Linked DNA regions of Homo sapiens: region 2 is linked to region 1. Evidence: fine-mapped expression QTL. A gene starts in region 1. The other region holds a variant in brackets. All regions are shown on one strand. Distances are between the middles of the regions.

Region 1 (8,000 bases):
ATGAGGGTCACTTGGCTAGTGCAGTGAGTCACTGAAGTACAATCTGTCACCCTCTCCCTTTCTTTACTTCCCCTACTCTTTCTTTCTGTCACCCTCTTCCTCCCCTCCACTCCCTTCCCCTCCCTCCCTCCCTGCTTCCCTACTTCCTTCCTTCGAGTGGCCTTTTTACTTTCTTTTATCCAATATTAATGTGTTTAGTCCCAGCTTTTTGAAGGAAGTGACATCTCATTCTTTTCTTTTCTTTTTTTTTTTTTGAGACAGAGTCTTGCTCTGTTGCCTAGGCTGAAGTGAAGTAGTGTGATCTCGGCTCGCCACAACCTCTGCCTCCCAGGTTCAAGCGATTCTCCTGCCTCAGCCTCCCGAGTAGCTGGAACTATAGGTGCGTGCCACCATGCCCAGCTAATTTTTGTATTTTTAGTAGACAGTTTCACTATATTGCCCGCCTGCCTGCCTGCCTGCCTTCCTTCCTTCCTTCTTTTGAGAGAGACAGGGTTTCTTGCTCTGTTGCTCAGGCTGGAGTGTACAGTAGTGTACTCTGATGATAGCTCACTGTGGCCTCTAAGTCCTCGGTGGGCTCAAAGTGATCCTCCTGCTTCAGCCTCCTGATTAGCCAAGTAGCTGGGACTACAGGTGTACACCACCACACCCAGCTAACTAGAAGTAGTCTTTATGATGGACTGGCATTTGTTCAGTTAAAAATGGAGGACTCTGTTACTGAGGAGGAAGGGGTGAGCAGATATGGAGGGTCAACCGGCAATCTCTGTCAGAGAGGTGATGGGGATAATGGTATACTTTGGCGTTAAAACTGAATTGAACTGGATTGAATATAATGAGGCTAATAATGAGCCACCATGAAAGTAAAAGAAAAATAAAAGGTATCTTTAGATTGTTTTAATCTGGTTATAGAGCGAAGGTCCCTTTTAATAAAAGTGGAAAACCCAAAAGAAATATATATTTAAGATGTATTGCATATATATAATAAAGTGTCCCAAGTAAGCCACTGTGCAGATAACATAGGAATATGATACAGTTGCAAACCAAATCTGGTAAATAACTATGCAGGCTTCTTCCTTCCACTTCTCTAAGGCAGGGCAATCAACCATGGGTTTTTGCTGTTATTAATGTGATAAAATAATATGTTTGGTATGGTGTCTGGCAAATAATAAATGTTCAGTAAGTAGAATGAATTCTTAGTATTTTAATTATATTTTTAAACAAAGGTCATCTAGGGGAAAACAGAAGTATGAGGATTGAGACTTCTTCTGAAAATCAGTGAGTGGCTCTCTGCAGTGGTTACAGAAATGCCCCAGCATGGACTCCCTCCTGTAAACTGGCTCTGCTGTCCCAGCAGTGACGGAAAGCACTCAATTTGTTTTCTCTTGGAAGAGACAGAGTGGCTGTCAGTTTACTGCAATATTTTGGACTGCCTGGAAAATTCAATGTACAACAGGAGAAAGGAGAGGCAGGAGACAGACTCTGGAATAGAAGTCAAAGACAAAGAGGCTCGTAAACATCAAGATTCTGGGGCTAATCTAGCCATTCACAGCTTTAGAACCATGGACAGTAAAACTTAAAATATATACTATGTTCTAACCACCACAAGGTTATTCACTCTAGCAACTAAAAAAGCACTGGCCTCAGGATTTGCAACATTAAAAGTCACAGCTCATCCACCATCAGATGCTAACTGACCCTGCTGTTCCACAAGCCATAACTACAGCTTTGATTGGACAAGAGTCTGGTTTCAGTAACTTTCTCCTGATTAAGAAGACCACTGACCATTGACTGGTTTTGCCAGTTTACAGAGATTACACACTTACCTACCTTTGTATGTAAAATGATCTTTTGATATATAAAGCATAACTGTAGCACATTTAAATGTTAAGTAGCCACCCCAAAGTGAACATGGGTCATATGTTACGTGCATGTTTGTTCAATAGGCATGTGTCAGGACCACCTTCATGAATATTCATAGCTCCTCCTGTAACCAGTTAAATATATATGTTTAGCCAACCTCTTCAGCATAAAGCTCCCACCCCAAGCCCTCCTTTGAAGGGCCTGTCTCTAGTTTTGCCTGGATGGCCACCTTGCAGGCTGTAACCCTTTGGAAGAAATAAAGTCTCCTCTCTCCTTTTCAAAACTTAAAAATTGTGAATTTTTATTTTTATTTTATGTATTTAACTTTTAAGTTTAGGACACATGTGCAGGTTTGTTATATAGGTAAATTCACATCATGGGGGTTTGTTGTACAGATTATTTCATCACCAAGCTATTAAGCCCAGTAATTATTAGTCATTTTTTCTGATCGTCTCCCTCCTCACCCACTCTGCCCTCCAGCAGGCCCCAGTATCCGTTGTTCCCCTCTATGTGTCCATGTGTTCTCATCATTTAGCTCCCACTTATAAGTGAGAACATGCTGTATTTGCTTTTCTGTTGCTAAGGATAATGGCCCCCAGCTCCATCCATGTTCCTGCAAAGGATATGATCTCATTCTTTTTTATGGCTGCATAGAATTTCATGGTGTATATACCACATTTTCTTTATGCAGTCTACCACTGATGGACATTTAGGTTGATTCCATGTCTTTGCTATTGTGAACAGTGCTGCAATGAACATAAGCGTGCATGTGTCTTTATGACAGAGTGATTTATATTCCTTTGGGTATATACACAGTAATGGGATTGCCAGATCCTATGGTAGTTCTGTCTTTGAGGAACTACCACACTGATTTCCAAAATACATGTGGCCAACAAGCATATGAAAAAAAGCTCAATGACACTGATCATTAGAGAAATGCAAATCAAAACTACAATGGATTTTTTAAGTTAATAATGTGAACAGGCTGAGTATGAGGGACATGGTGGCCCAAGCTTGAGTATATATATGGAACCGTTCTGGCGAGGGGAGTTGTACAATGAAGACAATTTGTGCAGGGCTTCTCATTGCAGGTGGAGGATATGACTTCGTCACAAAGACAACCATTAAGAGTTTTGAACAGAGTAAAAGCTGGAGAGGTCTGTGTTTTAGGGAGGTGGAAATGGGGATGATGGACTGGAAGGGTAAAAAACCAGAGATTGGTTTTGAAGCTGCTGTACCCATTCCAGAGAAGTGTTGCATTGACAGAGCACACAAGTCCTCGAATAGGACCGTGGTTAGAACGGCCGATATTTATCAGTGGGAATGGTAAACATTTATCAAGTGAGCAACCAAGTTCAGTTACTTAATCTGAGTCTCATTATGTCTTCTATAAAATACACATTAAAAATAGAAAGTAAAAACGTGGGTAAAGTACCCAGTGGATGGTCATTACTCAGAAAAAGGTATTTTAAAAGTTTCTCCCTTATTCTTTCTGAGTACAGCCTGTAGTACTTGAACCACTTCTCTTTCGTCCCCTACCACGCTGTTCTGCAATCTCTTTTTACCTGTCTCACTCTCTTCCTGTACTGTGTGCCTCATCGGGACTTCTAAAGGCTTACGGCCTAGGTCTTTGTATTCCGTGTCTCTGGCACGCGCCTCTGCACACAGCAGGCCTGAACCAAAACTTGTGAGCAAATAGGATGTAAGGGGGTGAAGGAGGTGGGCGCGAAACGGGTTCGAGGTCGCGCACTCCGCCGGTTTCTGCCGCCAGCCCAACCCCGCTGGGTCGTACCTAAGAGATCGCCGGTGTCAGAGCGCAGCGGGCACCTTCACAAGCATCTTGAGGGACAAGCAGAGTCGCTCCTCCCGCAGGGCGCGGGCTAAGAAGTGAGGAACCCAAGGGGCTCCCGTCCAACTAAGAAGCGAAATCCCCCACCTCCAGGCCTTCAGGGCTGGTTCTTGGGAAATCCTAACTCTTTCCCTTCTAACCCCTTCCTTGGCCCTTCTTCCTGCCCGGGAGGATCAAGGGCGCTGTTTTCCAGAAGCTGCCGGGTCGGAAACGGTGGGGGAACGGGGCGGTACGCGTGGGTGGAGGATAGGCGGGGAGGGGGCAGTCCACGAACTTTTGTCATTCAGCCTGGGAGACCACGGTGACATTCCTGTCTGCGCTGCGGGCAGGCCAGCCTCTCCGGCCCTGGACTAGGGGGCGCCGCCGAGAGAAGCCGCCGCAGGCTGCAGAGTCGCCGACCGCGCTGTTCGCAGGCAGACCCCGGGCTGCCCACCGCGGCCTAGCGCGCGCCGGATGGCAGGAGAAGTGTCCGCGGCCACGGGCCGCTTTTCGCTGGAGCGGTTGGGCCTCCCGGGCCTGGCCCTCGCCGCGGCCCTGCTGCTCCTGGCCCTCTGCTTGCTTGTCCGGCGCACCAGGTAAGCGCCTCGGCCGCCAGGCCACGCATGCGCCCTGGGCCCCGCGGGCCGCGCGCGACCCAGATGGCGAGGGGAGTCCCCCTCCATGATTTCCAGTGCAGACAGTCAGAACTTGCTGCGGGGTACTGGCTTCCTTTGGGACTTTGTAATAACAAAGGCTTCTTCTGTCTTTTTCCCACACATACGCGTACATATTAAAGCTTTGGGACCGAATTCCATTTGCTGCTCCAGCGTAAGTTGTAATAAGCCCTAGGTTGGCGGTATGCATTATGCATCACAGACACATTGTGTGCCTTGCCACTGCGAGTTGATATTTTATGGCCTAGAATTCATAGAGCATTTCAGGAGGGGAATATTCTTAAATTTCATCAGTTAAAAGAGAACTGTTTCAAGAAAATGCCAGTGCATGGTGTGAACAATAACTCTGAGTGCCTCTCTTCCTCAGTTTACCTCACTGTACCTCATTTGGAAAGCTGAAATAATAGTACATGCCTCGTGAGATTTTTGTGAGTACTAAATGAGTTAATGGAGAGTATTTTATGCAGTTGTCCTATCATTTTTATAAGGACAAAACAAAACACACAATAATGACAAAATCTAGACGTGTGTCACTTTAATTTGAATTGTGGAAGTAGAAATAGAGAAGTTCAGATAAAATCATTCACTTTGAGTTTAATCTGTTTTTCCTTTCTTTCTGGGTCCTATTTTCATACTGCTCTGGTGTTCATCGCTTTTGAGAACCAAGCGGATGCATTTTGTTGGATGATAATTGATATATGTATGTATATTTGCATACATATGTATCAATGTATAGATATCTATGTGTGTGTGATACAGGTTGTTTCTCAATAGTTTTGGGGGAAGTGACACCTTTGTACTGCATACAAATATCTATGGACATTTCTAGAATGCCTGGAGATGAGTACTCTAGGAGTATTTGCCTTTCTTCCCATGTCAGTTTTCAGAGATGTTCCTGGAATGTGCGCTTCCAGGTTGCCTTTTCCAATGGCTGTACTTTTGCTTTAGAGCCCAAGATGAGGACTCAGGACACTTGAACTTCAGTGGTATGTGATTCTATGTAGGTTCCACCTTCTCTATTTGCAGGGTCTCTATTTGCATTTGCAAGCCAGTTAAGATGCACCCCTAGGTATGCCTTTAAAGAGAGGTGGTAAAAGAAGGCTGTTGGTTCTATTCCCACTTTACATGCAGGGTAGAAACAGACAAGCTGACTAGGGCAGTTTAGATCAGTGAAGGTGATTGGTGTGAGAATGTGGAACTTGAGGGACAGGAAGGCAAAAGGGCAAGGTAGGCTTTCTCTTCTAGCATTCTGAGAATAGGCTGATCTTTCTCTATATCATGAAAAATTATTTTACTGAGATATTCATGCCATCAACTGCCAATTCCTTCATACCAGGAAGACCGTTTAATGCCCCAAATCTATAGGACACTACTTTGATTATACTGCATTTCAGTGTATAGAAGATAGCTTCATTTGTCCCAGTACAGAGTCATGTTCCTTATTTCTAATGTTTGGATAGTTTACCCTAATGCTCTACGAAAATGATTTTTCAGATATCACCTCTAAGAACAGAAACATGGTTAAGAGTCCCTGATATATTCTTACAGATTTTTTAAAGCTTATGCTAATATGCATGAATATATGTTAATAAAAATCGTGGGGAAATATACCCTGTGTTGCACCTTATATTTTCCACTTTGCAATACATTTTAGATCCCTTCCTATGTCAGTTTATAGAAGTCATTATTTGTAATGATTATATAAATATACACCATAGATACACAAAAACACACACACAAAACATAGATATCTTTGAGCTTTTGTGGAAATATTTATGTAAGATGGTGGAGTTGTTATCAAAATGTATGTGTGCTTTATGTTTTAATAGATGTTGCCAAACTACTCTAAGTCTCAATTTATGTTACTACTAATGTAGTGCAAGTGCCAATTTCTCCACATTCTGCCAATACTGGTATTATAAATCATTTTAATTTTGCCAATCTGATACATAAAGAAAATGCAGCTTCATTTTTATCCCAAATTTTCATGTATTTACTTTTAAAGGAATTTGTATACTTTTAAAGAAAATAATTGTCTGTTTCTTCAATAATTTATTTTTCTATTGGGTTCTTTTTCTATATAATCAGCAAAGACTCTTATGTAATGGGAATTTTCATACTCTTTCATACCAGCTGCAATTATTTTTACTATTGTAATTTGCATTTGTTTAAGAGTTTCTGGATATATGTCCTTGCTTAGAAAGCCCTTCTTGTTCCTAACATGATAAAAATATTCAGCACAGTTTTCCATTATCACATTGAGAGATTTTTATACATACATAGATTACATTTTTATTCTCATTCCATTTTCATCTTTTGAACAATTATGGCTGAAAAGTTTGTAATATTGCATAGTATAGGAATGCCAGATGTTCCAAAGTAAAAATTTAAATATTACCTATAAAAATGGTAAAAAAATTTTTAACAATCGGTAAAAATCAATTCAGAGGTCATTTGTTCCCTTCAGACACTTACCAATTCCACCTCTTTTGGCTACAGTACTTTGATTTCCTTTTGTGAAATTGTCTTTTCCCTTGTTGGATATTATCTGGTGAGACTGTCAATCACAGATGCCATTGCAGTACTTGTCAGGAGAGATGACAGTGGCTTAGCCTAGGGTTGTGACTGTGGGGTTGATGGAAGGTGGTTAGAATCAGGATACATTTTTGACAGCAGAGTCAACATAATTTACTAATGGACTGAACATGATGTGTGAGAGAGATGGGAATCAACAATGAAGCTTAGAAGTTTTGTTTCCCTTTTTTTTGGTTTTGGGTTTTTTGTCTGATTATTTAGTGAACGGTAATATCATTTCCTTAGATAGGGAAGGTTTGGGAGAATTGAGGAAATCAATAATTCTCTTTGGGTTATGTTAAATAGGCAGTGAGCACCAAAAGCTCAGGGGAGAGGTCCAGGCAGGATACATATTTGTGAAAGCCATAAATGTGAAGTGGGAATTAAAGCAAGAACAAGTTGAGATCGCCTGATGAAAGGGTTTGATGGAGAAGAGGAGGGCCTGGGCCACTCTCCTTATGGAAACTGAGCCTGGCGGAGAAAGAGGAAAATATTTTACACTCCTTTCTAGTCAGTTCCTACCCGAGTTCTGAGTCAGTTTTGCTCATTCTCAAACTTCATATAAATGGGATTATACAGTATCCTTTTTTGCGTATAACTTATTTCTCTCAACATAATGATTTTAAGATTCACTCATGTTGTTGTATCTATCATTAGTTCATTCATTCTATTTAATTGTGGTTTGTAATATATATAACATATTGATTGAGAGAAGATTGAGGGGCATAGAATATAGAGTTTTCTATCCACAACCATTTCGGAAAATTGACACTTTTCGAAGTAATTGTTGCTTTTTTTTTTCTGAACACTTCCGCCAGTAATACATGAGGGTTTACGTTGCTCCACATCCTTGCCAGTATTTAATAATGCCAGTCTATTGATTGGAAGCACTATCTTTCTGGATTTTGGATTTTGTTTTTTTCCTATGAAGTGTTGATTTTTGTTTTAGCACGCAGATACATTTCTGGCTAATTATTCTGAACTCATGGAAGCTTAGTTTTACTCTTTGTCAAGGTGAATCTATGAAAAGCTTGAGATATTTACAGATTCTCTCTTCTTTGGTGATG
Region 2 (8,000 bases), 97 kb after region 1:
TCTTATGTAAATAAAAAAAAATTAAGGCTCAGTTTAGACCTTCTTGGTTAAAATAACCCGTTGGAGTTCAGAGGGCTTATACACCACAATGTTAAATGCTCTAAATACCAAAGTGCCATCTTTCTGAATTTTATTGTTCTCACTGAATCACTGTATTATCTTGATACTTTCTAGCATTTTCAGTGCAATTATTAAAACAGTTATGGCCGCTCTAAAGGAATGTAATTGGAAAAGAAAGATGGCCTGTACTGGATGAAATTTTTAATTAATCTTTCACTGTTAAATTGTTCAAAATTAATCAAGTATATTGCCTATAAGAAGGCAACTGCACTTTACATACTTCAGTATTATCATCACCAAGCCATATATTAAAAGTTAATTTCTGATTTAAAAGTGTACCTTAACTGCAAAACCGTCAATTCTAAGTAATTCTATTACTCCCCTCACCCCCAAAAAATCTTATAAAAACCAAAGGACATGATAAAGAGAGTGCTTTGTGCTTAATGTTTTGAGATTTTTTTTTTTTGGCATGGACTTTGCAACATCAAATTAGGATATATGATTTCATAAAATAACTAATCTGAATTGGAGAATACCATTCATTCACTCATTGATTCAGTCATTCATTCATTTATTTAACACATCTATGTTGAAAAAAGTGATGTTTTAGACAATGAGAATAATGACTGAAATGCAATAGCAATTTTCTGACATATTATGAGACAATAAACAACTTAAATTCTAATCACGGCTGTAGATAAATATCCTTGGGGATATTTGAGAAAATTATGAAAAGGTGGTGATTCCCCCCCCCACCTTTTTGAATTATGCAGATTATATTCTCCACTGGTTCTTGCTTTTTACCGCCCTAACATATCAGAGTGATAAGATACAACCCACCTGATACACTTGGCCCCGAGGAAGTGCTTCTCAGATAAAAGGAGGAGGTGACTTATCCCTTTGCCAGAGCTGGGAATGACTGAAAGAGTTCCTTGGCTGTCTGCCCATTCCTAGGTTGAGAATTATCAGTAAATGGGATCATAGGTAATTACTGAGTAGGCCACAGAGATAATGTCTAAACACATCTAACGCAAGGTCCTTATGATCCTAATAGAGTCAGTGGAACTAAGTAAGTGTAGTTGATTTTTTCCCCCAATAAGTCAACTGGTTGTTGATTTAATTGATTAAGTAGATATTTTCATGCCACACAGACATACTCTAGATGTCAGCATAAAATAAATATATTATTTTGTTGGATATTTTTTAAGATGTGATAGTTGTGATCAAGACCATTTTAAGATAAATGTGTAACAGATATTTCTCAAAGCCAGAACAGCATGAAATGTTATATATCCCTGAATGCAAAAGTCAAGAGGTATGTCTAAGACTTTTCTGCTTTGATGTTAGAGCAGTCTTGATCTTACCACCTGGCTTTCAGAGACTATAAGAAGCTATTTCAAAGAGGCAAAGATGTAAAAAACAAATGTGCTACTGTTCTTAGAATCAATGAAATAAGGTTATACCTTTTCCTGACAATTTTCTATGTTCTGATACATATTATATTTTTAAACCTGCATGCAAAACACATATAATGCTACACATTGAGATGTTACTTAGGAAAGTCATATTATATGAATTAAATGGGGAACCCACTGAGATGATTAAGATATATCTGTGGAATTTATAGACATTATTCATCTACCAGATATTGCCTCTTTAGAAAGAGTATCCTGGAATGCCAGGTTTGATTGAATGACTTGAAATTGGGTAAAAATCTTTTCTGTACTGGGCTAGCCATACAATGAAGTCAGCTGACACATGGGTAAAATAGACAAGCTATTTAATGTCATGATCTGAGGAAGTTAAAAAAAGAGTTTTTATTTCTTCCTGCCATGGATTATCTCTGCCTTTCCTCTTTTTAAAAATAGAAATGCTTCTTTGAGAGTTAACACATCATACTTCTAACAACTTATCATGGGTTAGTTTTTTATTGCTTTCTGTCCTGACTAGGCATATAGAAAGAAAAGTGCAGCAAACAAAAGGATAACCCTGAAGAAAAACTTGAGCTGTTTCTCTGCTTTGTCTAATCTCCTGTCAGGACATCATTTATTACCCACAATATTCACTTGAGAAAACAACTTTGAGAAACCAGCAAAGAAAAAGCCAAAGGATGAAGATGAAGTCCTTCTATAGTTCAAATCGCTCATGTCTGTGATCTTCAAAATGTGACATTGGACAATCAATTTAAATGCTCTTTTTTAAAAGATAGACTGTTGTATTGATTATTATTTCATGCTATCTAAAAGTTTCCAAAATATTTTGTCTTGTTGTAAAGAGAGAACCAGATTAAAACAATCACGTGTCAGTTTGTTTTCTAAATATTCATATATTCTCCTCCCTTTCTGAATGACAGAGCCGTTGACCAACAGCTGTTTCTATTATGTAGTTTGGGATATGCTTCTTTCGTTTGTTTACCCTATTAATGTGAGGATTTCTAATGTTTCATCCTTCAGACAAGGAACTGGTCCTGATGGCCTAGCTGCTACCTATATTTTCCTGGCTTCTTTTGTATGGTATTAAATATGATTTAGAGGTTTCTTCAAATTGTATTTTCATTAAAGGAAAAAACCAAGCATGTAAGAGCCAGACAGTTTTATAAGAAGAGTAGAATATCATGGTGTAAGGGGTTATGCTGTGCTTCCGTTTTATGTATAATTAAGCAATTCAAGCAAATCAAGATAATTTATCTTAGCAACTAGATGATTATTTTTCTCCTTTTGAATAGGAGCTGTCTTTTATTTTGTTTAAAAATGCATCCTTACCTTCTGTTTTGGAACAGAATAGAAGCATTTAAAAAGATAGAATTTCGTATTGTTGAAAGAAATGTGAGACAAAGCTGACAACCCGTTCATAAGGCCCTTTCACCCCATCTCTAGGCATGGTGACATTGGTACAGACAGGGTTTGTCACTCATAAATTTACAGCTTATTCCAGTCTCTTCATAAATTGACTAAATTTTTTGAAAGAAAAAAAATATAGATGTATAAAATACCCAGTTATAGGTTGTGTTCTATTTAGCCCTTGATTGAAACGTATTGCTCCTTAGTATCTTTTAGCTATGAAAATTATAATATGGAACAGAGATTAGAATGAAATTATCATGGCTAGAAGGCATTTACTCAGTGGTGGCAACCACATAAACCTGGGTCCTGAGAATGATGATAATACATTAGGTTCTGCATGCCCGATATTATTGCCGTACATTATGTATGTTTCATTTATACTATTTCGCACACACCAGCAACGCTGACAGATAGGTAATTACTCTCTGCGCCAATGAACAGTTATCAGCACCACCGCTGTTTATTGCTGGAATGAAGCGCGCTTGTCAGTCAAGGTCACTTGTTTGTGTGTCCTCTTCAATAGTTCCTTCACAGTTGTTGAACTTTGCACACAGTTCTTATTGCAGGGTTCCTGGAGGTTACTTTACTACATAATGTGTTTCTGGTGTTATCAAAGTCACTTGTATTTATCACTTTAATTGATAAACAACGAAGTCACAGGAAGCAGAACTGAAGATGTGAAAAAACATATTTTGCTAGTCAGCTGATCCCAGTAGGTTTTCAGTAATGAATGACCTCAAGAAGATGCATTCAGCACAGACCCTTTCAGGTTGTGATACGCTGCCAGCCTAAGCTAGTGAAATCTCATTTTATAACATTAACCTTAATTTCAGCTGCTGATGGATACTGACACAATTTCATAACTACTATAGAGTTAATGTTTTTACCCTCTAGAAGTGTTTTTCTTTGTTCATTTCTTGTGCAGTGCAGAGGTTATTTTCATGCTTAGTATAGTTCTATAATGGGCTAAGTCCATTTGGTTTGACTTAAAACCAGTCATGTTTATTTGTTAGATATGTGCCATTAAAGCCTCCCCTTCCCATAAAAAATATTATCAGTCTAATGCTGGTTCTCCTCATTGTGTTAAAGCACCGGTCGTGTTCCAAAATGAACATTGCATGGTGCATTTTTTAGAGTAAAAATAAATTCAATGCCATTGTGTCGATCCCATGCAGCCTGTAATTTCATCTGTTATAAAATAAAGAGAATGGTTGGTCTTTTTATTTTTGTTTGTTAGCTACAGTGCTTTATTAGAAACTGGAATAACCTCTGTGATATAATAATTTATCTAGTCAAGATAACTGGAGTTATTTCCTTAAGCCTGTGATCAGCTTGAGTTTGTGTGTTGGGAGGTTTATACTGCCGTTGCTTATTACCAAAGAAACAGTTAAAAAGGATTTATGGTAGTGCCCGTTATGTGTGTGTCTGGAATTTTTGTGTATTTAACTTCTCTCCTTGCCTATCTCTGTTTTTTCCTCTCTTAACATTATCGTCAAATAGAGAGACTATCTATACCTACAATTAAATGCAAATTTTATTCAGGCATTTAAGCAGAATCACATTCATTCATTAAACCAAATGATTCTTTTATTTGAAAAAATATATCAGCACATGGTAATATCACACCCTGCTTACAAGGGCCTCTAGTTCTCTGTCAGTGCAAAAGTTTACTATTTCATTATTAAAGGATTAAACTACAGCAAAAGCTGCCTGGTGACCATGAATGTTTTAGTTAATTTGATTATGCCCATAAAGAAAGAGTTTAATTCCATAGCAGCCAGTGGGTCTTATACCTGGCAGTGTGGTTCCAATGCATTACGGGCATGATCTTATCCTGGGAGAGACTGAAATTGCCATTTGGGTGA[A/G]GTGTGGAGGAAGAGATGAGAACTGGGTTCACTGGTGAACCCAGGTTAACACCATGCCTCGACGTTTTCAAAATGCTTCCTTTTCTTAGTTCTTAGTTACCAGAGTGTTACAAAGAAAGGGTTTTGATCTCATGTAGATAGCATAGCATTAATTACCCTGACACTAATTAAACTGCATCAAACAAATACCACCGTGTTCCTCAGGGGGACAACAGAAGGCAGTTTAAAATAATTACTGGAGCTTCATGCATGTGTGAAGTTTTCATTACTCTTAGGACACAAGCAAAAAAGATTTGATATCATTAAAATAGCCACCTTTTAGTGATTGCAACAACAACAACAACAACAACAAAAAGTGACTAAAATTTCCTTGGAGCATATTGATGTCTAAATAGTGGTGGCTTCAGTTCTTCAGAATGGTAACTTTTCCTTAAGAATTGGAAGTGTGTGAAGCAGGAACAGGTGTTCCAGTCACATTCTGGTATGATTATGTATTAGCTTATGTTTGTCAGACCATTTCATTAACCACCCACTGCTATCACATATACATATACTTTGTTCTTTCTGAACCATGAAATGAAATGCATATATCTTCACTAATGCTTGCTATCAATGTAAATGAGAAAAAGAGGCTTATTACCAATCACGACTCCCATGAAGTCCACACCTCTGTACACTTACAGGTAATAAACATCTTTTTTGTAAGTAGAACAAAAGATATATTGAGTTCTGCCTATAATAAGAGATAGTGATCTTGTCCTACTTTTTTGTCCTAATAGATGGTACTTCCCATACATAGTTTGACACAATGCTATGGGAAGCAAGCTTCTCTCAAAACTGGAAGTGCTTGTTATTTTTGAGATCTGACATCATTCTGGACATAAGCAAACTTTTCTGGTCACAGATAATGGACCTTTTGTGCCACTGGACAAGTGCAGTGAATTAGTGGCCACCGTTACTAGGATCATAGATGGTCCCTGTCCTGGTGGTTGTTAGAAAGGACTGATGTCAAAATTGCCAAATGGATGGTATAAATGATTGACAGTGTTGCTGTGTTAGGGCCGGTTATGGTGACTGTGGAAGTTGCTCATGTTTGATTGCTCTTTTAAGTGTGTGTGACTCTGCACATGTGTGCTTGATGTGTGTGCATGGTGAATTCTATGCGTCGTCCCCACTGTCTGCTCAGTATATATGCACACAGCACATTCTACAGTTTTGTCCTCACAAGGTCACTTATCCTATTTATCTCAGTGACATATGAGCAGTGGGACTCAAGTTGTCTGGGTTCTAGCACCAGGTGCCAGCCATCCTCCCTGAAAAGGTGTTGGGAATTAAAATGGGAGAGTGGTCATTTCCAGATTGATGCAACTCATATTTCATTCAGTGAATGACTCCTTGAATGTGATTATGGAGTGGTTCTGTGTATGCAGTACTGCATAACATAAGCCATTTATTTTTTTACTTCCTTCTGAAAGCAATAATTTAAGGGAATTATGCATTATGAGGGTTTTCCAGTAATTTTTTTTAAAATTAAAATAATGCTAGCTATTTTAGGAAACCTGTTTAGGAAAATAACACTGAATTAGTGCTTTGCAGTTGTCACACTAAGCAAAAAATGGAACAAAACTGATTGTAGAAGAATAAAAAATTAATCCAGTTGTAGAAATTTGATGTGTTCAAAAATATGCAAAAAATATACTTTTGTTCCTTTATAGCCAGATGGTTTGTCCTATTTTAAGCTGATAGTAACTTCATACATCTCTCTTGAATGTCATTGGTTTTAACTGGCAGACAGTATCTACTATTAGAATTTTCCTTATTCCTGGATGATCTAAAGTGTATTTTTGGAACATTTGGATGATCATACTGTACACCAAGAAAATTTTTTCATTACACTTAGCTCATACTCAAAAAAGTGTTTATATAATTTTAAAAAAACCTCTAAAAATGAACAGTTCTTTTGACATGATGTTGACAGAAGTCACTTTGATGTAGTTTAGAGTCATGAATTTTCTATCTGTTCCATTTTTCCTGGGGCTCCATCAACTCAGACATCCTGATCTGTCATTTTTCAACTCTTTGTGAAGGCCTTGACAGATAGAGGTTTTGACAAGTGCTGGACATCAGCAGCAATTTAGAATAAGCAGTGTATATTTCTCCAGGTAAAGTGACAAAATGTCTAAAAGTGTCAGAAGAACTATGTGGCCTGCAATCATCTCTAATACTATAAAGCAAGCTTCCATTTAAGTACTGTGTTGCAGCATTGTATGATGGCTGAAATTTAAAATTCTGTCAGAACCTATGATTAGAGGGCATCTGGCTTATTTACAAGTGTTTGCAATATTAAGAACCTTAGGGTCACTAGAAAAAAATCCTTTAAATTTCTAATGAGTGAATGATCAGGATAATCACATAATGTGATAGGAGTCTTTAAAACTATAACACACCATTATATATTTTTTTGTTTCTTCAGTACTAATTTGGGTCATTCTTTTTAATGAAAACCTACTTCCTGTGCTGTCTTCAGAGTGTACAGTTCAGAGTTCAACTTAAGGGAACTTTCACTGGGTGCTAATTATAACAGGTCATTCAGGTTTCAGATGTGCCAGCATTTTTCCTGGTTGACTCTTCTATCAATGACTAAGTAATAACTGTAAATATCATCTCGCATATTGAATATGTTGTCCTTTTCATATAATTATTTTGTGTCTGTATTCACTCAAGAAACAGCTGTTAAAAGTTGAGTGGGATGCAAAATGGCACAGCCTGAAGATGTTCTTACTCACTCAGCTAACTCCCTTTTGATGTGATACCTACTGGCAGGGTCGCGTGGTGAATTCAACTTCTTTGACAGCCATCAGCACTACTGACCAGTGGTTTTGGGTTTTCTAGTGAGGGGAAAGAGTAGGAAAGAATTCCGTAGTTTAGTTTTTTTCCCCCCCCTGCTGCTGGAGCTAAAGCTTCTGCCAACAACTATCTAAATCAACACCATGCCAACGTGATCTGCAGACCAAAGGTCACTCCAACATCTGGCCCCACTGTCTGCTTCTTTCAGGTTTGTCACTGGGCAGCATCTGCTTATGGATTCTTTCTCAACCTCTCTTTGATCTCTCTGACAGTAAAAAGAAGCTTCTATCACCCATCATGTGTTAGGACTTTAAAAAATAAATTCGAAAGCATGAGACATTGGAAAACTGGTGGAATTTTATGTTTTTCACTCTTGTATACGTTG

Evidence for each region. PIP is the estimated chance that this variant, and not a neighbour inherited with it, causes the effect. A credible set is the group of variants that fine-mapping cannot tell apart.
Region 2: its variant is the best candidate, but not a certain one, in a credible set for the expression of CYP7B1 in adrenal gland (GTEx, PIP 0.84).

What each region holds. Positions count from the first base shown.
Region 1 is chr8:64,794,747-64,802,746 of GRCh38, reverse strand. CYP7B1 (cytochrome P450 family 7 subfamily B member 1) reads left to right here and starts at 4,010. Exons shown (of 6, transcript NM_004820.5): 1 at 4,010-4,281. The coding sequence starts at 4,160. It overlaps LOC105375879 (a long non-coding RNA gene), which reads right to left and starts at 3,966. Exons shown (of 3, transcript XR_928992.3): 1 at 3,650-3,966. LOC105375878 (a long non-coding RNA gene) reads left to right here. Exons shown (of 4, transcript NR_188111.1): 3 at 262-379; 4 at 1,221-2,148. RefSeq lists silencers at 4,043-4,092, 4,103-4,212.
Region 2 is chr8:64,698,044-64,706,043 of GRCh38, reverse strand. The region is part of intron 1 of CYP7B1 (cytochrome P450 family 7 subfamily B member 1); the gene reads left to right. Among named protein-coding and RNA genes, the nearest start is that of CYP7B1, 97 kb to the left of the region's middle. The variant A/G (reference allele first, on the strand shown) is at 4,769.